3 linked regions of the Homo sapiens genome follow. The protein of the gene in region 2 purifies or fractionates together with the protein of the main gene of each other region. This does not show direct contact. Each region holds a gene or a part of one and is shown on either strand. Other genes may lie near its edges.

Region 1 (7,739 bases), about 79 Mb from region 2:
GTCATTTTTAATTTTGTATTGGACATTGCAAATGAGATGTTGTAGAGACCACAGATTTTGTTATTTTTGAATAATGTTGAGTTTTTGTTTCAACAGGCAGTTATTTGGAGATTATCTTGAATTTGTGGAGTTGTGTACTTATGCTTTGTTAGAATTCATGTATTTCAATTTTGCTGTAACCCTAGGGTAAATCACATTGTCCTAGGAAATCTTTATCTCTAAGACATAACCCTTTCCAAAGTTTCACTGCAAAGCTTGAGGTATTTACCAAGGCCCTCTAATTTAGCAGGGACTAGCAGAACTTCAAACTGTCATCTCTGTTGAGCACCATCGCAGTTTAGTTCTTTCAGCCTTCCAGCTCTTTTCCTACTCCTAGTTGTGCCAGGTGTTCTGCAGAGTCCTAAAATTCTCAGGCTTCTCAGAGAAATAAGACTATGGATTTCTGCTTGTTCAGTCAAGCAATGCAGCCAGACTGCAGAGTACCTTCAGGCAAAAAGATGTGGAAATCACCCAAAGTGACTGCTTTCTTGCAGTCTTTTGCCCAATTTGGTTACTCACCAGGTCCTTCAAACAGTTGACTTTTACATTTTGCCCACAATTTGCAATTGTTACCTATAGGAAAGTTACTCCAATAAAAACTATTTCATCATTATCAGAATTGGAACTCCCTTTAAGGAATTTATTATATAATGAGACAAAACAAATACACATTAAACAATAAGTGAAATAATTCCCAAGATTTTTGAACAGATGCTTGGTTTTGTGAACCAGAGGAGAGCCTTGAAGACTTGAGCAGATAGGAATGGCTTTCTGGAGAAAGCACATGCTGAGCTAAGAGTTAAGGGTTCGGTTAGGTCCGAGTGGTTTTCAGAGGCAAGAGAGGACATTCTAGTTAAATCAACAAGTTGGGAATGAATATCACTTGTTCTTAGGACAAGGAGATTTGCCTGCTTTTAGTTGGAAGTACTCACTGAGTATCTTGGGCAGTGTGGATGGTTGAGAAGGTTGGGGCCAATATACAGAGGATCTGAGCGTTTAGATCTGATACCGTAAAAAAGATGAGCTGCTGAAAGTCTTTGAATGGTGGAATCACAGGAATGAAAGATGAATCTTAGCAATTTGCAGAATAGACAAAAAAAAGATTATAATTAAGTCCACTGGGAGGCTGTTGGTTTTGTTCAGGTCTGGATGATAAGGGTTTGTAACGAGGCTATTAGTACATGAGAAGAAAGGAAGAAAATTATATAAGAGAGAGAATCACAGAATGTAGAGGGTAATTTGATATTTGGAAAATGCCAGGGAGAGGGATTTACTCTGTTTCTTTAATAGTCTAGAATTTACTATCTTCTAGTAAACCAAAATTTTATGAGCACATGATATATGTAAAGAACTGTGATAGGGTGTGTGTGTGCATGTGTGTGTGTGTGTGTGTGTGTATTTATATTGACTTCTGTCTATTGCTGATTCTAGTTTTAGATGGTATAACTTGAAGGACAGTGCCCCTCTCTGTTCTCTCAAAAAATACCAAGTGCTCATTAAAAGTTATATTACTCTTTGGGCCCCCAGTAAATTCTTATTGACTAACAAAATTTTATCTTACCCGTAAGAGACACTGTTGATGTAAAGTCATTCCAGTATCTAATGATTTAAGTTGTATTTTAAGCCTATTTTCTCTTCCAGATTCTCTTACATGTTGGAAATGTATTTGAAAAAATTCTCACTTCTGCAAGGCCAGTTTTCAGAACCCATATTGAATTTGAAGGCTACAGATGAAGGACAGATGGTCATATCTGATCTTGAATATGTTTTTGGAAGAAATTTTTACAGAAGACTTTCATTATAGGGATTCTCTACTGTCATTAATCACTTAATTTAAGTTATCCTAACCTTTCTATGACTAAGCCATGTAAATGATTATTTTTCCCTTTTCCTAGTTTTATATCTTTGAAGAATCTATTCACTCTACCTTGAGTGTCTTAATATTTCTCAAAATTAATTTTTATATATTTATTCAGAATATACTATTCACTTATTTGGGGCTATGTATTTAGCAAGAAACTCTTTAAAGTTGAAATTTAAGTTAATCTGTGTTCTCATTTAATTTTAGGTGACTGAACTTGAATGTGTTAGTAGCCAAGCAAATGCAGTACATACTCATAAGACAGAATTAAATCAGACAATACAAGAACTGGAAGAGACACTGAAACTGAAGGAAGAGGTATTTGCTGCTTTTTACTCATCTGTAATCTAGCTAACATGTTTGTACAAAGTATTAGATTCCATGTCAAATTTAAAAGTATTTTATGGAATAAAGTCAGGTTGTGACCTCTTTTTTAGGATGAAATTTTTCTTGAGTGGTATTAAGCTTGCTCATATTTTCTCTATCCTTATTTCTGTTATTATGAACTGTGGTGAGGCAGTCAGACCGAGATACCACCTGTTGCCTTCCAGATGAGAGTTGCATTTATACAGTCAACAGAAAATCATTAGGGGTTAAATGGATTTTAAAAGCTGTTGGTTTCTCTGGGTTCCAGTCAAAACTTTAATATCTTAGGAAAGAATTATATCCACAAAGCTTGAAGCAACATTAAAATGTTCAGGTTGTTATTTCTAAGCATTGCTGTACCAGAAGCACCAAGTTAGACTTGTTGCTGTTGCTTAAGATTATTGTTCTAGACAACATACATATAAAGATGAATTCATCCCTCTAAAAGTCAATATGAAGGAATGTTTTTAAAATCATCTTTTTCTAAGAACTAGAACAATAATTTCAGGGAAAAACAAGACCTTCCCTTGCCTTGATATAGTTTGAATGTTAAGACATTGCTCTGTCTTTTCTAGGAAATAGAAAGGTTAAAACAAGAAATTGATAATGCCAGAGAACTACAAGAACAGAGGGATTCTTTGACTCAGAAACTACAGGTGAGCTGTAGTAAAAATTGTTATTCACTTCTGCATAGAAAGGCATCATTTTTTCACATAGCACTGACTTTTTTTCTGAGACTCCATTTTGTAGGTTTTTGGTCATTTTTCTTTTCCGGGACTTCTGATTCATGCCTAATCTTTGATTTTTAAAAAGTTACTTGATAACTTCATCTATGTAGCTTATAATTATCATAGATGGTCATTTATAAATTGTAAATTATTTAGTAAATCCTTTTGGAAATTTCTACTTTTAATTAAAAAAAAATACTCTGGGTTTGGGCATGGTGGCTCATACTTGTAATTTCAGCACTTTGGGATGCTGAGGAGGAGGATCACTTGAGCCCAGGAGGTTGAGGCTGCAATGAGTCATAATCACACCACTATACTGCAGCCTGGAACAGAGTGGGATCCTGTCTTAATAAAAAGAAAGAGAGAGAGAAAGAAAGAAAACCCTGAATTTAAAGAAAAATTTGCAAATTGATTTCATTCAATTTGGGAACATTATTATTATTATTATTATTATTTTACAATGTACTAATGTATGAATTATACCAATAGTTGTGCCCTAATGGAACACAAGTTAGTACTTTTCGTTCTTCAGTGTAATTAATTTTACTCACTTTTTTCTGCATAAATAGTATTCTTCCTGATTCCAGTGTACAAAAAACATCATGTGTCAGTGATAGTCAGACATGGTAAGGGAAGATTTCTCAGAATTTATTACCAAAGTCTTCTCTTGCCAGCTCAGGCAGTTTTCTTACACCCTCAGCGTTAGGTGCCTCAATAAAGAAGGGTTAGGATGACTTTGGAGTAGAAATAAGTATATGTATAGAGTGAGGAATCTGAGATAAGGCATAATAAGAGGGACCTGAAAGCCCAGGATTGGAAAGAGGACCTAGATTATAATAAGAACAGCCAACATTTATTGAGTGCTTGCAACATATCGGACACTGGGCTTAGCACTTTACCTGTATTATGCATTTAATCCATGTAACAGTCATAATAACCCAGATGAAGAAACTGAAGCTTGGAGAGGTTAACTTGTCCAACCTATATTTAAATGGAGACAGTCAAATTTTAAAATCCAAATCTTTGACCACTAAGATAATGGTCAAAATACATTATTTTAGTAGTCAAAGACATGGGCTTTAAACCCCTTCATAATAATCCTTCATGAAATAAACAGATTCCTTATATAAAATGGAATATTTACCTCTCCCCTTCCCATCACTGGCTTTCAGTAGTCTGGGAAAAATGAGATCACTTGTTTTGGTTGGCCCTATTAAATGCCGTTTGTATATTTTAGTCGTCTATATAGATTAGTGGTCATCAACTTGGGGCACTTTTGAAGCCCAGGGGACATTTAGCAATGTGTGCAAACATTTTTTATTTTCACAATTAGTGGAGCGCCACTGATATCTAGTAGACAAAGCCAGAGATGCTGCTAAGAATCAGATTATCCAACCCAAAATGTCAATAATGCCAAGGTTGAGAAATCCTGATGTAGAACTTAAATATGAAGCATGGAATCAGGGCTGGAAGAAAGGGGGAAATTCAGTCAAGTTTTGTCTTTCGTTTGTTTTGGGTTTCGGGTACTTGCGATGATTCAAGCATATGTTAAGCACTTAACTTACATTAGCTCTAATTCTCACAGTAGCAGGTGAGGTATCCCCATTTTCAAAGAGAAGACAGCAGTTCAAAGGTGTTAACAAGTTTAATTAAGGCACTTAGCTAGAAAGTAATGAGGCCTAGATTTATTTTATTCCAAAGTCCGTTCTTTCTGCATTACCACACTTCTTCAAGCAACAAACAGTCAAGTCATCCTTAATGATTCTTTTAAAAAGTATTTTCAGTTATATACACATTTACATTGTCTCACTTATGAAGAGAAACAAAGAGATGATATATTTATATCAAATTTCTAATGTTGATAATTCTAAATGTATTTGAAGCCAGGCATAGTTGCTTATGCCTATAATCCCAGTGCTTTGGGAGGTTGAGGCAGGAAGATCTCTTGAGGCCAGGAGTTCAAGGCCAACCTGGGCAACATAGCGAAATGCTGCATCTACAAAAAAATGAAACAGTAGAATTAGCTGGGAGTGGTGGTGTGCACCTGTAGTCCCAGCTGCTTGGATCACTTGAGCCTCGCTTGAGTTGGGAGTTGCAGTGAGCTATGATCACACCACTGCACTCCAGCCTGGGTGACAGAATGAGACCCTTTCTCAATAAATGTATGAATGAATGGATTTCATCATTGATAGAGCAGTAATTGAATTTTATAGCTGGCACTTGAAATTGTGAATATAATTCTTACCCATCCTTTCACTGAATATCAAAAATATTATCAAAACAACCTACCTAGAACAGGACAGGGAAGCTTTTAGAAAACCTGAGGATGAATTCTAAAAGAACAAGCTACAGAAAATAACATATTTTTTCCAATTCAAAGAAATTTCCTCCTCTGCAGCCTTCTCCCTCCCACAGAAACATCTCCTGTTTATCAAAGGTCCCAGCACCCTTGAACTCCATTCATAAGTTCAGTACAGAAAATTGGGATCATTAAATTCCTTGGAAAAGAATCCTGAAATTGCAGTATTTAGAGTTGGATTAGTATTTAGAGTTGAATGTGGATAGAAAATGTATAGTTATTGGTAAATTAAGGATACCGTGCTACAGTTTTTCTAATTTATGAGTTTTTGATATTTGGCAATATTTGGATATTTCTGTTATAAATGTCTATGAAAAACATGCCCATTGTAAAAAAAATTAGAAAAATTTCAAAAAATGTACTTAGCAAGGTTAGTATAAAATCATAATTCCATAATATTAAAAAAATCATAATCCTGTCATCTTAAGGCAAGGTAACTGGCATTTCCTTGTCCCAGTGTTGGTTTAGATAATATTTTCTTTATAAGAGATGGATATAGATACCATTTTTTGTTTGTATACATTTTTATCTAACTTTATGTCATAAGCCCAATGGCTGCATAGAATTCTCCCATATAGAGGTATCATAGTTTTCTTCCAGCATTCCTATAGTAATGGCAGTTTATGTTGTTTCCAGTGTTATGCTATAAATAAATAATATTACAACCTTTTTCATAAATCTTTGCCTTTCTGATTATTTCTTTAAGATAAACTTTCAAACAAGAATTGCTTGGTGTCAATGTTTTAAAATTTCTTATGCTGGGAAATTGACATCTGGAAAAGCAGGGTACCCACTGGATATTGGTACCCCCTGGACCCGTTCTTTGCCATCTCTTAAGAAATGAAGTGACTCAACTATTTAGTTAATTTTTAAATTATGAATAACATTGAACAATTTTTCACATGCATTTAGTCTTTACCTGTATCTTGAAGTCACGAGTGCATTTTCACCTTAGAGCATGTGGAATATCTTTGCCTGGAATTCTTTGCCCAAATCTTCAGATGGCTGGCTTCTATTTTTAGTTTAGGTCTTAGTTCAGATGTTAATTTCTCTGACTTCCCAATTTAAGGACTATGCTACAGTCCCCACACCCCATCCCAGGTATTTTTTGTAGTATTACCATTTTTTATTTTCCTTTTAGTACTTATCACTAGCTGAAATGATCTTGTTTTTTATTTCTATTTTGTTTTTAAGCTATTTATTTTTATTTCAATAGGTTTTTGGGAACAGGCAGTGTTTGGTTACATAAATAAGTTCTTTAGTTAAACTTTTTATTTTGAAATAATTTCAGTCTTACAGAAAAGTTGCAAGAATAATACAGAAATTTTTTATATACCCTTTACTTACATTCCCCAAATGTCATTTTGGCTATATTTGCTTTGTTTTATTCTGGATGGCTCTCTTCTCTCTCTCTCTCTCTCTCTCTCTCTCTCTCTCCCTTTCCCTTCTTTTCCCTCCCTCCCTCGTAAGACAGTGGTAAGTATTCATGTATTTGTATCTAAGCACATCTAAACACAGAAAAGGTAGAGTAAAAATACAGTAGAAACGATAGAAAAGGTACAGTAAAAATACAGTAGAAAAGGTAAAAATTGTACACTTGAATAGGACACTTATCATGAATGGAACTGTAGGACTGGAAGTTGCTCTGGGTGGGTCAGTGAGTGAGTGGTGAGTGAATTTGAAGACCTAAGATATTACCATACACTGCTGTAGACTTTATCAACACTGCACTTAGACTACACTACATTTATTTTTTAAAATGTTATTTCTTCAATAATAAATTAGCCTTAGCTTACTGTAACATTTTAACTTCATAAACATTTAAAATTTTTTTAACTTTTTACTTTTTTGTAATAGCTGCAAACATAAACATGTATTCAGCTGTAGAAAACTATTTTCTTTATATCCTTAGTCTGTAACCTTTCTTCCTATTAAAAAATGTTTTTAAAACTTTTTAAACTTCTTTTAAAAAACGAAGACACAAACACACATATTAGCTGATGCCTACACAAGGTTGGGATCATCAATATCACTGTTTTCTACCTCCACATCTTGTCCCACTAGAAGGTCTTCAAGGGCAATAACAGGCATGGAGCTGTCATCTCCTATGATAACAATGCCTTCTTCTGGAATACCCCCTGAAGGACCTGCCTGGGGCTGTCAGATAATTAATGTTTTTTTAAATAAGTAGAAGGAGTACACTCTAAAATAACTTGAATAGTAATAAATAGTATAGTATAATAAATATATAAACCAGTGACATGGCCATTTATTTTTATTAAGTATTATGTACTATACATAATTGTATGTGCTATGCATTTATACAGCTGACAGCACGGTAGATTTATTTATATCGGCATCACCACAAACACATGAGTACGGCATT
Region 2 (7,739 bases):
CTCATCCTTTATCAGGAACCCAGCCCTGCGATACAGCATTCCCGCCTCCCTGAGGGTTGGCCCTGTGACCTGTTCCAGACTCATCCTTTATCAGGAACCCAGCCCTGTGCTACAGCATTCCTGCCTCCCTGAGGGCTGGCCCTGTGACCTGTTCACCTCTTAAAGGCCCTCCGCTTAATACTGTTAGAGTGGCAATAAGTTTCCAGCTTAGGAACTTTGGGGGGTTCCTTCGAACTACAGCAACATGAAATCCCTGTCAACTTTTACTCCCTTCAGTTCCTTTTTAAGTAGTTAAATATTTTTCACATCGTTTGCTTTTACTATGAAATTTCTCCTGTTCTCTGTGTATTTATTTGTTTGTGGAACTCTCCAAAATGTCTTTGGAAAGAATGCAGCACATTGAAATTTATAATCCATTCATGGTTTAGATTCATGGTTGGTAAATAAGTGCTTTTTCTCTGCACGTGTGTGTGTGCACACCCTCCCTCACCCTCTCACTAATGCACACACACTTTTAAGTGTATGGGCCCAGGTTATGGCAATAGCTACATTTTGAAAATCAAAGGCGAGAAAAGTTAACCAAGAGTGTCACGTGATACCATGTGATGGCCACCTATGTGGCATAAGTATCAGAAAACCTCCTGCCGTGAGCAGGCCAGACACGGTGGCTCACGCCTATAATCCCAATATTTTGGGAGGCCGAGGCAGGCGGATCATTTGAGGTCAGGAGTTTAAGACCAGCCTGGCCAACATGGTGAAACCAGGTCTCTACTAAATATACAAAAATATCTGGGCATGGTGGCGGGCACCTATAGTCCCAGCTACTCAGGAGGCTGAGGCATGAGAATCGCTTGAACCTGGGAGGTGGAGGTTGCAATGAGCCTAGATGGCATCACTACACTCCAGCCTGGGCAATAGAGCAAGACTCCAACTCAAAAAAAAAAAAAAAAAAGAAAAAGAGAAACCTTGTCTCGCGTGACCCTGGCGCCTCCTGGAAGCTTGCTCATGCCCAACTGGTGAGAGGCAGGGGACCTAGCCAGGTTGTCTGTCAGCCGCTGCAGGATGTGATGGGTCATCTTGAGTTGAGCAGGCTGTGGTGGAGGCCAAGGCTGTGCCCGTTTTGTGCCTTCTCCTGCCTTCATTGTCCTTCCACAGACAAGTTTGCCTTCCCCCGGGTCTTGTGTGTCCTGGGGGCTTAGTGGTCGGTACAGTGCACGGGACCCACCACTTTACGGACCATCAGAGTCTGTCACTTCACCTGTCTTCAGAGATGGGCGTGTGCTTAGACGTTGTTTGGAACGCGTTGTTGAAGCGTACTGCACGTCGGTCATCACGGGGTGAACACGCGAAGCTGGGCGGTCCGTGTCTGCTTCATCCAGACTCCCCCAGAGTTTGCGTGTTAGCACGTGTGCCCCAGTATGCCCCTTTCTTCCCTCGGCACCCTCCCTCTGCATGTGCCTTTGTGCAGGTGTATGGATGTATGTATGCACGTGGATAGGTGTGCGTGTACATATGTAAGTGTGCGTGTGTGTCCATGTGTGTATATACATGGGCACACACATGCCTTTTAAAAGTTACAGTGCTGAACACTGCACCCAGAGAATTTGGCCTGACGTGCGCCCCATCCTCTCTATATCTCAGACTCCATGGATACCGAGGACTCGGCCTCTTCTCAGAAGTTGGATTTGTCAGGAGAAATGGTGCCTGGTCCCCTGCCAGCCCCCGGAAAGTGCAGGAAGCGAAGAATGCCTGTTGGAAGATTCCAGACGTTTTCGGACCAGGAGGGTTTGGGCTGCCCGGAGAGAACTCATGGGTCCTCCGTGCCCAAGGAGAGCCTGAGCAGACAGGACAGCTCAGAAAGCAGGAACGGGAGGACCTTGTCTCAGCCTGAGGCCTCGGAGACTGAGGAGCAGAGGTCTCGGGGTGTGACCGACACCAGAGAGGTGAGAGAAGGGCTGGGGAGCAGCAGGCCCACGGCACTGCCTCCCTAATGTGGGGCTGTTACGGCTTTGGCGGGGCCGTGATTACGCCTGCGGCACTGACTGTGTCCCTCCCTGATGCAGGGCTGTTACGGCGGTGCCGTGATTACGCCTACGGCACTGACCGTGTCCCTCCCTGATGCGGGGCTGTTACGGCTTTGGCGGTGCCGTGATTACGCCTACGGCACTGACCGTGTCCCAGGATAAAGGGAATCATCACACTTAGGGTTCCAGGGTGCTTGCTGCTGCGTTTTGTTGGACGTGTGCCTCTGTGCCACACGCTGTCCTGCGCTGCTGTTCTGAGTGGAAGCCCCGTGGTGGAGAGAGGGGACTCTGCCTTACGGTGCACAGGGCATTTGTCTCCAAAGCTGGAATCGGGCATCTTGGCCGGCTGAGCCATTGATGACCCTTTCGTGAGGGGAGGATCCTGGAGGTCGCTGTGATGAGAGACCGAGTCACTCCACCCTCAGGGTGACCTAGAGGTCAGGGGGACAACTGGCGCAGGCCCAGTCAGAGGCGTTGAGACACACCTGCTGTAGACATGAGTGCAGACCACCCAGAAGGGAACAGGCAGGGGCTGTTCACTTGGTACTTGCCACAACGAGGGCTTCAGACTCCCATGCAGGCAGAGGAGCTTGAAGGTGCGGAACTGTGGGACAGGAAGGGAGGCATGGCCGGAGCTAGAGGCAGCTCCGTAGCAGCATGGGGTGGGGGGGGGTCCCAGAGCTGGGTGGGGCGTGTTTGACGTCCCCGGCAGGTCCTGAGCTGGAAGGAGGCAGAGATGGGGGAGGTGGGCGGTCTGTTTCAGGGTTATTGTTTGACTCCGGGCCATTGCTGGGGACAGCGCCTGGCACCCTCTACCAGCCTGACTGTGGGTGCAGGCTGCTTCCTGGGCAGCTCCTTTTGAACACAGGCTCTGACTGCGGCCTGGATGTGTCTTCCGCTTCCCTGTCTGGGTTGAGGGGAGGAGTCTGGGGCCTGCTTGAGTTGGGAATGTGTGGGCCCCGTCCTGTCCTGTCATCGAGACCTCACTCATCCAGGACCGGTGCACCTGGCTAAGCCTCACTGGGCAGGCACTGCTGAGCCGCCCTCCACCTGGCTCAGGGCTGGGGCCTCAGGGCACCTGTCCTCCCCTTCGTGGTGCGAGGGCATCCCAGGGTGCGCTTGGGCACCTGCTGGCATTCAGGACCTCAGTTACTGACTCGCTGGCCTCATGCTGTTGTTTCCATCACAGCCGTCTCCCGGGTCACACTCGGCTCTACCCGGGAAGAAGACGGCCCTGCAGGCGGCGCTCCTGGAGACGCTCTTGGACCTGGTGGACAGGAGCTGGGGCGGCTGCAGGTCCCTGCACAGCAACGAGGCATTCCTTGGTGAGTCAGGGCGGCCACTGCTCTTGCCCTGTAGGCAGCGTCTGTGTGGGTTCCGGGGTCCTCTGCGTGTGGTGACCTAGGAGTCATCTCAGCCCCAGGTCTCCTATGTCCCCTCCCACGAGCGTGTGGTGGTCCCGCGCCTGGGCCCTCCCTGGCAGTCTTTGCATCTCACAGTGTCCAGGGCTCTCGGGAGACACCACATGGGCCTGGGCCTGTGGGTCCCCCGCTGTGCTCTGGGGTGTTGGGGGGCCTGTCACCTCATTTTGCTCAAAATGCTGTCCAAAGGGGCTTGGTTCTGATGGCTGTGATCACATGGGGATTTGGAGTTTGGAAGCTGCTCAGCATCTTCTCCCCCGACCCAGACGTGTAGCCTGTGCTGGGCCTGGATTGCAGAGCTTTTGGTTGGTGTGGGACCCAGGAGGGTGGTCCCTCCCCAGAGAGGACTTGGGTCTGTTGGATTCTACCAGGCAACCCGTACATGAGCACACTGGGGCCTCCCTCATCCAGGATCACACTGGGAGACCAGGAGATGCCGCGTCCCCAGGGGCACCTTCTCTTTGTCCTGCATCCTGGGGTGTGGCTGTGTGTGTCCCTCAGGAGCCTAGCCAGTGTGCTTCTCCCCGCAGACCCTGGGCACGGCTCTGAGCTGTCTGACTGCGCCTTGCAGTGTTATAGCCCCTCAGCTCCTAGAATGAGGACGCCCTGCAGTCGCAGCCCACCTGGACCCCAGCCCCATAAACCTCCCCTCTCCCTAGGCTGGTGTCCTGTGGGAGCCTCCTGAGCTTGCCATCGTCGGTGGCGGGGGGACTGTCCCAGGCCCAGGCCACTGTCCCAGTGTGGAGTTGCCAGCTGTCGTCTGCATGGTGGTTTCCACACAGGGCAGTCGGTGCTTGTGGAAGGCGCAGCGAGTTGTGGCGGCGCCACTGAAACCTTGAGACGTGGCGGCCCCTGGTTGCCCCTTTTCTTGGAGGTCACCTCTTCTCTTTCTTCAGTTCCCACCCTGCCCGTGTGTGGACGCACAGAGCCTGAGGTGGTTTTGTGGCGCCAACACCCCTTTCCCCTCTCCCTACCTGTCGTCTTTTTGAGGCATCGTCTGTGTGATTCAAAACATACTGAGCCGATTTTGTTTACATTTCATCCTTTAAGCCTAAGTGCTAATGTAATATTTGGTTTTCACTCCTAGCTCAGGCAAGACACATCTTGTCATCTGTTGAAGAATTCACAGCAGCTCAGGACAGCTCTGCGATGGTGGGTGAAGATGTCGGCTCCCTGGCTCTGGAGAGTAAGTCCCTGCAAAGCCGCCTTGCTGAGCAGCAGCAGCAGCACGCCCGGGAGATGAGCGAGGTGACGGCGGAGCTGCACCACACACACAAGGAGCTGGTGAGCCCGCCCTGGCGCTGTGTCTGTGTCCATGTGACTGGGGGAAACATGGCTCTGACTTCCAGGAACGAGGGCAGCTCCTTGATGCCACACTGTCCCAACTGCCATCTCTGCAGCCCCATGTCTCCACTCCCTGCCCGGGACCCGGCCACCCCCGGAACGCGGCCTGCCCTGTCTCACAACAGGCCTGGAGCACTTTGGAGACAGCAGTGGCGCTGGCCACCTTCTCTCCCCGGGCCCAAGGGACCCTCCACCACTGGGCAGTGCCGGGTGCTGCAGGAGCCAGGCCTGGACGTGACTTTGTCTTGCTGACCCATCTCTCAGGGCCTCGAACTGGGGAAAACCGAGGCCACTCTCCTTTTATGAAGGAGATGACGGCCAGTGTCCCATGGTGAGCTGGGGCTACAGGGCAAGTTACCCCAAAACCAGCAGCTGAAAACCTGCATTTATCACCTTGGATTTCTGTGTATTGGGCCTCAGGCTCAGCTCAGCCAGGCTCCCTCCTTCCGTCTCAGCCGTGGGCCGGGGCCGCCGTCTCATCTGAGGCCTCATGGGGGCTCTGTCTCAGCCGTGGGCTGGGGCCACCGTCTCATCTGAGGCCTCACGGGACAGGATCCTCCCAGGCTCCCTCCACGCTGCAAGGGCCTCCCCACGGGCTGCTGGCATCCTTAGCACAGGGAGCTGGTGGTCAGAGAGCCACACCCAGGCAGAAGCCGCCCTCCGGGAGTCCTGGTGTGAGGGCAGAGCCACGTGAGGATGTGCACATCCAGAGGGGCCTTGTCAGCATCTTTAAATTGCGAGTGAAGTCGGCCCGGGACGGCTTCGAAAACTGCCTCTGAACTTGTCTGACAAGTACATACTGTCCGTTTCATGGGAACCAACATCTCAGAGATCCCACACAACGCTTCCTCTTTAGAGAAGAAAAACACAGCAAAACAACACAGGCAGCCTCTGTTTAAACGCACGTGGCCCCCCCACCCCGCCTGGAAGCCTCTGCACGTGGCCTTCATCTGGAAGCCTCTGTATTTAAACACATGTGGGCCTCCTCCATCTGGAAGCCTCTGTATTTAAACACACGTGGGTCCCCATCCCCCGTCCAGAAGTCTCTGCATTTAAACACACATGGCCCCCCATCCCCCATCCAGAAGCCTGTGCATTTAAGCACACGTGGTCCCCCGTCTAGAAGCCTGTGCATTTAAGCACACGTGGTCCCCGGTCCAGAAGCCTCTGCATTTAAGCACACGTGGTCCCCCGTCCAGAAGCCTGTGCATTTAAACACACGTGGTCCCCCGTCCAGAAGCCTGTGCATTTAAACACACGTGGTCCCCCGTCCAGAAGCCTCTGCATTTGAACACACGTGGTCCCCCGTCTAGAAGCCTGTGCATTTAAGCACACGTGGTCCCCCGTCTAGAAGCCTGTGCATTTAAACACACGTGGTCCCCCGTCTAGAAGCCTCTGCATTTAAGCACACGTGGTCCCCCGTCCAGAAGCCTGTGCATTTAAACACACGTGGTCCCCCGTCCAGAAGCCTCTGCATTTGAACACACGTGGTCCCCCGTCTAGAAGCCTCTGCATTTAAACACACGTGGTCCCCCATCTAGAAGCCTCTGCATTTAAGCACACGTGGTCCCCCGTCCAGAAGCCTCTGCTTTTAAACCAACGTGGCCCCTCCTCTGGAAGCCTCTGTATTTAAACACACATGGCCCCTCATCTGGTGGAAGCCTCTGGATTTAAGCACACATGGCCCCTTCTCTGGAAGCCTCTATATTTAAACACGTGTGGCCCCCCGTCTGGAAGCCTTTATACTGAAACACACGTGACCGGCTGTCTGGAAAGTGAGCTGGGCGCCGTCACTGATGATGTCTTTTCTGTGGGACACAGTCAGGCACACCCCTTGCCCTTCTGAGCCTGGGACGAGACAGAGCTGACAGGCGGAGCCCAAAGGTGTGCCGAGCACCAGTGCTGCCAGGGGTGAGAGTCACATGCAGCTGTGGCTGCCGTGGACGCCTGCTTTTTTGCCCTCTGCAGTTTGCCTAACCCCTGCAGTTTGCAGGCAGCCCTGGGCCTCTGGACAGAGCAGCCCTGGTTCCCTGTCAGGGTGAGTGATCCAGAAGAATCTGGCAGCCCGAGCCCCGCGGGTAAGGAGCAGTCAGCACCGTCAGGAACCCCGCGGAGGGAGCAGCCGTGCAGGCTGGTGGGCACTGCTTTCCAGGGAGGCCCACATCTGTCACTCCAGAAGCACCCAAGTTTACTCTGCCACGTGAGGACGCTCATCCCTCGGTCACATGAACCTAGACCTTGCTTCCTTTGGAAGCTGCAGTCGGGTGTCCTGAGGCAAGGTGGCCCCACTTCCAGCTGCTGTGCCTGGCACGGCCTCTGAGGCAGATGGGCTGCGCCCAGCTTGGGTGCAGTCGGTCCTCTGTTCCCTGCACCTGTCGTGGCCTAGACTCCAAAAAATAAAAAATTAGGTGTGGTGGCACACTCCTGTCATCCCAGCTATTTTGGGAGGTAGAGGCAGGAGGCTCAGGAGTTGGGGGCTGCAGTGAGCTGTGATTGCTCCACTGCCCTCTAGTTTGTGCGACAGAGGGAGACTTTGCCTCAAAGAAACAAATGAAAAAGAGCTGGGAGCTCACAGCCCTGCCTTAAGAGCTCACCGCATCCTTGGGAGGCAAAACCATGAGACGTGGCACTGCCAGGAGCTTTCTGGACGACCCAAAGCCCCGCGCGGAGGGCAGGTCATGCTGGTTGGCGCCACTGCAGCAGACACCTTGGGGAGAAGTCCGCGAAATGAAGAACGGGCCAAGATAAGCCTGAGGGGAATGGTCTCAGACCCAGCGATCAGCTTTCACCATGGGCGTCGGGGGCCTGGCGGGTGCATGCATGCTGAGGGGGCTGTCGGCGGGTGGGCTCACTGAGCGGAGAAGGATGAAGCGGCGATACCCCCAGCACGAGGCTTCTGCTGCACAGACTCAGGCGCTCCCTCCCCTGGTGGCAGTGAGCTGGGGCCTGC
Region 3 (7,739 bases), on a different chromosome or scaffold from region 2:
TGTCAAATGCTGCTAAGAGGTCCAAGAAGATGAGGACTGAAAAAAAAGACCCCCATGTTTCCCAATCTAATGGACATCAACAACTTTAGCAAGAGGGTTTTGTTTTGGTTAAACAGAATATTATAGCAGGAGTGAGTTAAGGAATTCATGAGAGGAAAAAAGCACATATAGCATGTACTGAAAACTCCTTTAAGAAGCATGCCTGTGAAAGAGAATAGAAAAACATGACAGCAACAGAAAATATGCAGGTCAAAGGACAGGGTTTTCAAAATGGGAGACAATAGGGCAAGTGTGAATTCTGAAGGAAAAGACCTAGTAGAAAGATGAAATAAACCAAAGGAAGAAATTCTTTAAGACAGGAGAGGCCAAGCACAGTGGCTCACACCTGTAATCCCAGCACTTTGGGAGGGTGAGGCAGAAGGACTGCTTGAAGCGAGGAATTCGAGGCCAGCCTGGGCAACAAAGTGAGACACCATCTCTACAAAAAGTTTTTAAAATGTGGCTGGGTGCAGCGGCTCATGCTTATAATCCCAGTACTTTCAAAGGCCAAGGAGGAAGGATCACTTGAAGCTGGGAGTTCAAGACCAGCCTAGGCAACATAGCAAGAGACCCCATCTTGGCCAGGTGTGGGCTCGCGCCTGTAATCCCAGCACTTTGAGAGGCCAAAGTGGGCAGATCACAAGGTCAGGAGTTCCAGACCAGCCTGGCCAACCTGGTGAAACCCCGTCTCTACTAAAAATACAAAAATTAGCCAGGCACAGTGGCGGATGCCTGTAATCCCAGCTACTTGAGAGGCCGAGGCAGCAGAATTGCTTGAACTCACGAGGCGGAGGTTGCAGTGAGCCGAGATAGTGCCACTGCAGTCCAGCCTGGGTGACAGAGTAAGGCTCCATCTAGGGGGAAAAAAGAGACCCCATCTCTACAAGAAAGTCATAAAAAAATTAGCCAGGTATGGTGGCATGCACCTATAGTCCCAGCTACTCGGGAGGCTGAGAAGGGAGGTTCTATTGAGCTCAGGAGGTTGAGGGTGCAATGAGCTATGACCACACCACTGCACTCCTGCCTGGGCTACAGAGTGAGACTTCATCTCTTGAAGAAAAATGAATGAAAACAAAGAGAAAGAGAGAGAAGAAAGATAGAAAAAGAAAGGAGGAGGAAGGGGGGAGGGGGAGAAAAGAATGATTACAGCACCTGTGAAGGGATTGGTCTTGACAGAATGAAGGAGAAAAAGATGAGTCCCAGATGCACATAGGTTTGTAGACTTGGGAGGTAAAAGAATGAAGGAATTCCCATTCAGCAGCTTCCATTTTTATAATGAGGCATAAAGCCTATGACTGGTTAAAAAAGAAGAAAATATGAGAGATTAGAAATAAGAGCTGGGCACGGTGGCTCATGCCCATAATCTCAGCACTTTGGGAGGCTGAGGAGGGCGGATCACGAGGTCAGGAGATTGAGCCATTCTGGCGAACACGGTGAAACGCCATCTCTACTAACAATACAAAAATTAGCTGGGCGTGGTAGTGCGTGCCTGTAGTCCCAGCTACTCATGAGGCTGAGGCAGGAGAATCGCTTGAACCCGGGAGGCGGAGGTTGCAGTGAGCGGAGATCGCGCCACTGCACTCCAGCCTGGGGACAGAGCAAGATTCCATCTCAAAAAAAGAGAAAAAGAAATAGAGACAGTAGGCCAGGCACAGTGGCTAATGCCTATAATCCCAGCACTTTGGAAGGGTGAGACAGGAGGATCACTTGAGCCCGAGAATTGGAGACCTGCAACATGGCAAGATACCGTCTCTACAAAAAAATAAAAAAATAGCCAGGCGTGGTAGCACACTTGTAGTTCTGGCTACTCAGGAGGCTGAGACAGGAGGATTGCTTGAACCAGGGAGTTTGAGGCTACAGTGAGCTGTGACTGTACCACTGCACTCCAGCCTGGGTGAGAGAGGGAGACCTTGTCTCAGTAAAAAAGAAAAGAGAAAGAGACAATATGAAGAAATAATTCGCAGTGAGCTGGAAAGTGAACTAGAGAAATGTATAACATTGCTAGGTAATGCTGATTATGCATATGAAATAGATGATTATAAATTTTTAATGACACTGATCTGTCTAATTTGCTGATTTTCTCTAGCAACTCTCAGCTCCATGAGTGCCAGCAACTAAGAAGGTAGATGGTTAGGTTCAACCCGTACATCACTCCAAGTTCTACAAGCAGCAGAAGTCAACACTGGCTGAATTAAACAGAAAAAGAATTTACAGAAAGGATATGAGGTCACTTTTTCAGTGAAGAACTTAAGTGCTACACAGCTAAAACAACACTCAAAATTACAGAACTGGGTTGGCAAAGATGTGATTGCTAATGCCAAGCAGGAGATGCTGCAGCTTGGTTTGCACCATCACAGTTCTGGATACTAAGTGCTAACACTTGCCACTGTTGCCCTTATAACTTGATCTTGCTGCTAGAGACTGATACTACATGTGAATCTGCTGATCAAGGAGGGGGATATTGTAAAGAACATGGTGGAACAGTTTGAGGGACTGAATCAGCTGAAGGATGAAGAGAGTGGTAAAGGAATTAGTATTGGGAAGATAATGGATGGCGGATGGCGGGTAGTGACTGAAACAAACAGGGATGTGAGGCATGGTGTTTAGGCCTCCCCTTGAAAGAGGCTAGATTGTGAGATCCAAAGTGGTCTTAGCAGCAGCTTAAGCAGACTTCAGTGGGAGTCTGGTCAGAGCAGCACGGGTGTTGGCACAGAGGCAAAGCTGCCCAATATTGCTATGGCCAGCATTTCATTGACAAAGCCTTGGACAAGTTAATTACTCTCTTTGAGCCTATATTTTCTTATCCATAATATAAAGATAGTACTACACATCTGATAAAGTTGTCATGAGGATTAAATACTAAGACAGAGATTCCTGACACGGAGTAAGTATTCAGTAAATGGTAGCAATTATAAGTGACACTGAAGCCAAGAGAAGAGTTTCCAAGAAAAGGTAGTCAATAGATGAAGTTTCACCTTGGAGCACTGTAGAATGTAAGTGTGTGCAGAGAAGATGAAGCTAGTTTTAGCCTCAGGTTTGCAACATTCAGAAAGGCTAAAGTCCTATACTCAGAGAAACTCAATCAGCAGTTCAAATACCCTTCCTTTATATAGGTTCTAAGCTAAGAACTAGGTGCCCCAAACCAATAGATTTCTACTGATAGACCCTTGAAAAAAAAAAAGAAAATAAAATCACCAGCTTTTAGTGCAAGCGTCCAAGAGGGAAATAGCTAACTGAACTGTTGCACGATACAGCTGGGGAAAAGGGAGACTGAAACCCATACAAATAATCATCTAATTTAATCAAAGTAATTTTAGAGTTGGGAACTGTTACAGAAGAAACGTCAATCCACTGCCGCTTTCTGCTCTGCTCTCACCAAATCGCAGGCCATAGGTCATTCAGACTATAAAAAGCTCCTACAAATTCCATAGAAATCTGATCAAGTTTACTAAACCTCTTGTTGGGTGAATGGAATTTCAGCTCCTCTAATTGTGTCTACCACCTAAACATGACAGCAGGGCAGTGGATCAGGGCAACTGCCAAGATTGTTCTCTTCCCATCTGCCTCAGTTGTACCTCTCTAAATTATTTAAACAAAAACCACCATGAAACAAACTGCATATTCTTTATAAACTTGACAAAGGGTCTGAATAAAGATTACAACAAACTTTTTTTCTCTCGTGGGGGAGGGAATCACTTCCAAGGAAATGATATAATAAACTCACTCTCCCTTTTTAATGAACTATCGATTTCTTCAATTAACTGGATACTGAGAATGTAGGTAGTACTAGTAGTAGTAGTAGTAGTAATTGTCTTCCTCAAGACATCAAACACACAACTGCAACTTCAGCTCCTAAAGCAGCTTTTTTTTTTCTTTTTTTTGAGACAGAGTCTCATTCTGTCGCCAGGCTGAAGCGCGGTGGCATGATCTCGGCTCACTGCAACCTCCACTTCCCGCATTCAAGCATTCAAGTGATTCTCCTGCCTCAGCCTCCTGAGTAGCTGGAACTGTAGGAGTGCACCACCATGCCCAGCTAATTTTTTGTATTTTTAGTGGAGACAGGGTTTCACCACATTGGCCAGGATGGTCTTGATCTCTTGACCTCATGATCTGCCCACCTCAGGCTGCTTTCTCAGAAAATAAATGCTCACAAAAACACACGGTAAGACCTTCAACCACGCAATAAATAAAAAGAAACTGTCAGTGCAATAACAAAAAAACTACCCAAAAAACACAGATTAAGATTTAGGGCCAGGCGTGGTGGCTGACGCCTGTAATCCCAGCACTTTGGGAGGCTGAGGCAGGTGGATCACGAGGTCAGAAGTTCACGACCAGCCTAGACAATATGGTGAAACCTCGTCTCTACTAAAAATACAAAAATTAGCCAGGCGTGGTGGCGTGCACCTGTAGTCCCAGCTACTCGGGAGGCTGAGGCAGAAGAATCACTTGAACCCGGGAGGCAGAAGTTGCAGTGAGCCAAGACCGCACCACTGCACTCCAGCCTGGGCAACAAAGCAAGACTCCATCTCAAAAAAAAAAAAAAAAAGATTTAGAAGGTTCATCCTGAGTTTCGAACAGAGTACTATTTGAATTGAAAAGCAACAGTTTAGGGCTCTGTTAGTTCCATCACATTACCGTGTAACCTTGAGACAAATTCCTTAATCTCTTCGACACTCAGTTTCTTCAATAAAACAAGGAGAACACTAGCTATCTTCGAGGCCTCTTAAAAGAATTAAATAGCCGGGCGCGGTGGCTCATGCCTGTAATCCCAGCACTTTGGGAGGCTGAGGCGGGTGGATCACGAGGTCAGAAGATCGAGACCACCCTGGCTAACTTGGTGAAACCCAGTCTCTACTAAAAATTAAAAAAATCAGCCGGGTGTGGTGGCACACACCTGTAGTCCCAGCTACTCAGGAGGGCAAGACAGGAGAATCGCTTGAACCCAGGAGGCGGAGGTTTCAGTGAGCCGAGATCGCCACTGCACTCCAGCTTGGGTGACAGAGCGAGACTTGGTCTCAAAAAAAAAAAAAAAAAAAAAAAGAATTAAATAAAACAGTATATGTAAAGCTCTAAGTACAATGCCTGGTATACAGTAGGAATATTCTTCCCTTTGCAATTTTCAAAAGCTCTTATCAAAGATTGACTCATAGAGATGGTGAGGCTTAAAGAATAGGGAAAAAGTGTTAGCTGAACAGGAAGAAAGGGTATATTCCTCAGGTACTCCAAATTTATTTATAACTTTTAAAATATGGATAAATTTCTCAGATTATCAGTAAATTACCAGTGTGAAGCTGCATCATTGATCTTGAAATGCTTTTCTGTATAAGATGCTTTTATTCTCCTCTTCTAAATTTACAATTCTTTCAAGTTCTACATTTGTACAATTTTCTCCCATCCTCTTCCTAAAGCTCTAACTCAGACCTGCCTTACTTTGGTCTTGGGATGACCTAAGCCTTAGCCAGACAGACACGCCTTAGAGTTCACTTAGTATTCTAAAAGACCTCTGGGAGAAAGCAAGAACTCAGCATCTAAGAAGTTAGAATCACTGTGGCATAATGAAAAGGACATGGGCTTTGGAGACGGACAGCCCTGGATTTAAGTTCTACCTCTGACACTTTCTAGATGTATAACCTTGGGCAAGGCACTTAACCTCCCAGGATCTCATTTCTGCATCTATAAAATGGAAATAATGCCACCTACATCTCATAGTATGGTTGTGAGGATTACAGAACCCCTATGACAACTCCTGGCACATAAAAGGCTAATGGCTCACATCTGTAATCCCAGCACTTTGGGAGGCCGAGGCAGGCAGGTCACCTGAGGTCGGGAGTTTGAAAGCAGCCTGACCAACATGGAGAAACTTCATCTCTACTGAAAATAGAAAATTAGCCGGGCATGGTGGTGCATGCCTGTAATCCCAGCTACTCAGGAAGCTGAGGCAGGGGAATCGCTTGAACCCGGGAGGCGGAGGTTGCGGTGAGCTGAGATTGCACCATTGCACTCCAGCCTGGGCACCAAGAGTAAAACTCTGTCTCAAAAAAAAAAAAAAAAAAAAAAAGGCTAATTATTGGTAACTATTATTACAGACCAACTGCCAATTGCCTTACTGAACACTTTTCAGAGCAGTACTCTTGTAACAGGCAAAAGGAGTCATACTGCTACCACATTCCCATGTCTTTATCCAAAACATTCCATTTTAGTACTCTATAATTAACCAAATCAAGAGCTTAAACAATTCAGGACAAGAAGTGCTAACATGGCTCAACTCATTCTCTCCTGACAGCAACAAAGCCAGTGGAAGGTGGATATGTTTGCCAAAAGCAATAAAGGGTCTGTTTGAACACGGTCATTACTGATACTGATGTAAGCACAATCTAGTTGAGGTTCTTGGGCTTGCAGCCTTATTGTCAGAAAGTTTTAATATTTCTGAAATAAATCCTCTCCTGCCTTGTTTTCCCTGCTGTGCGCCAACACTCCTATCACTCATTTTCAAGAACACAAGGAAGAAATCCCTTTCAGCTAGTACTACCTCATTCCCTGTGGAACTTACCTTCCCATTTCCCAAATTACTTCTTATAGAGATTTTTGGCTTGCTGGGTTCACTTGATGTCAACTTATGAAAAAGGACACTATAATTAAATATATCATAGCCACATAACATGATCTGGCCCCCAGAGCATCGCAAGTTACAGGACGGAGGCAGGTGCCAAAGATAAGATGTGATTGAGTAACCTGCACACCATATGTTCCTTCTTATTAACTACTGCACTTGGGAATTCTGGCTCTTGTAAAAAGTTTATTCCCCTTGTGTGGCTGAGCAGAGTAACAAAACTAAGAAAACTGATGATATGTGAATGAAGTAAGGAAAACCATCTATGGAAATGTGACTTAAAATAAATGTTTATACATGAAAGTTAAAAAACAAATGCAACAGTCACCAGTTCCACAGCCAAAGGCAGCTATTTCAATACTAGTATTCTCAGTTCCTTCATATGCTATAAGAAAAACAGTAAGGAGTCAAGGTCAAAGTGGTTATTTACATAGACAATCTAAGAATCAACAAAGGCTCAACAAATCAAAATGTCACACTGCAGTTCCTTGGTGAGATGACTTTCAACTTAGGGAAAGGGCAGTCTTGGGCACTTATTTTGATTTAGCCAATTCAATATCAAGAAGGTTAAAGATTGGGCACCTGAAAAGCAGCTCAGCAATGCCCTGAATTTCGTCATCCAGCTGTATCCTTGCCCAGAGCTTCACCTGCTTAACTTTCAGCAGAGAAGTTGTTTTTTTGGTGCAATTAACATTGTAAGGCAAGCTCAGCCCTGCTTTACAATAGCCTTGAGGCTGCTGAGTATATCTACAATCATGGAACATACATTTGGTGCTGAAAAAACAGGAAGATGGTTCAACGACAAGGAAAGTGGTCAAGAAGCACATCTAGAATTAAGAAAAACAGACTCCAGTATGCTGGTCTTTGATTTTTTAACTTTTTTTTTTTTTTTTTTTTTTTTGAGACAAGGTCTCACTCCAGCACCCAGGCTAGAGTGCTCATTGCAGCCTCAACTTCCTGGGCTCAGGTGATCCTCCCACCCCGGCCTCCTGAGTAGCTGGGACTATAGGCACACACCACCATGCCCGGCTCTTTTTTTTTTTTTTTTTTTTGGAGAGAGAGGTTTTCACCATGTTGCCCGGACTGTTCT

Evidence for each region. Proteins that work in one complex are often made in the same cells at the same time.
Region 1: the proteins of CEP72 (region 2) and HOMER1 purify together in Homo sapiens (affinity purification with mass spectrometry; 2 studies listed by BioGRID and IntAct, with this or other methods). This does not show direct contact.
Region 3: the proteins of CEP72 (region 2) and AHCYL2 purify together in Homo sapiens (co-immunoprecipitation; 3 studies listed by BioGRID and IntAct, with this or other methods). This does not show direct contact.

Annotation. Positions count from the first base shown.
Region 1 is NC_000005.10:79,392,006-79,399,744, reverse strand, and holds part of HOMER1 (homer protein homolog 1), read left to right. Parts: intron 1-2,107; coding exon 2,108-2,218; intron 2,219-2,841; coding exon 2,842-2,922; intron 2,923-7,739. UniProt on the Homo sapiens protein: Postsynaptic density scaffolding protein. Binds and cross-links cytoplasmic regions of GRM1, GRM5, ITPR1, DNM3, RYR1, RYR2, SHANK1 and SHANK3.
Region 2 is NC_000005.10:635,876-643,614, forward strand, and holds part of CEP72 (centrosomal protein of 72 kDa), read left to right. Parts: intron 1-1,641; coding exon 1,642-1,943; intron 1,944-3,213; coding exon 3,214-3,349; intron 3,350-4,532; coding exon 4,533-4,729; intron 4,730-7,739. UniProt on the Homo sapiens protein: Involved in the recruitment of key centrosomal proteins to the centrosome.
Region 3 is NC_000007.14:129,227,420-129,235,158, reverse strand, and holds part of AHCYL2 (adenosylhomocysteinase 3), read right to left. Parts: intron 1-7,739. UniProt on the Homo sapiens protein: May regulate the electrogenic sodium/bicarbonate cotransporter SLC4A4 activity and Mg(2+)-sensitivity. On the contrary of its homolog AHCYL1, does not regulate ITPR1 sensitivity to inositol 1,4,5-trisphosphate.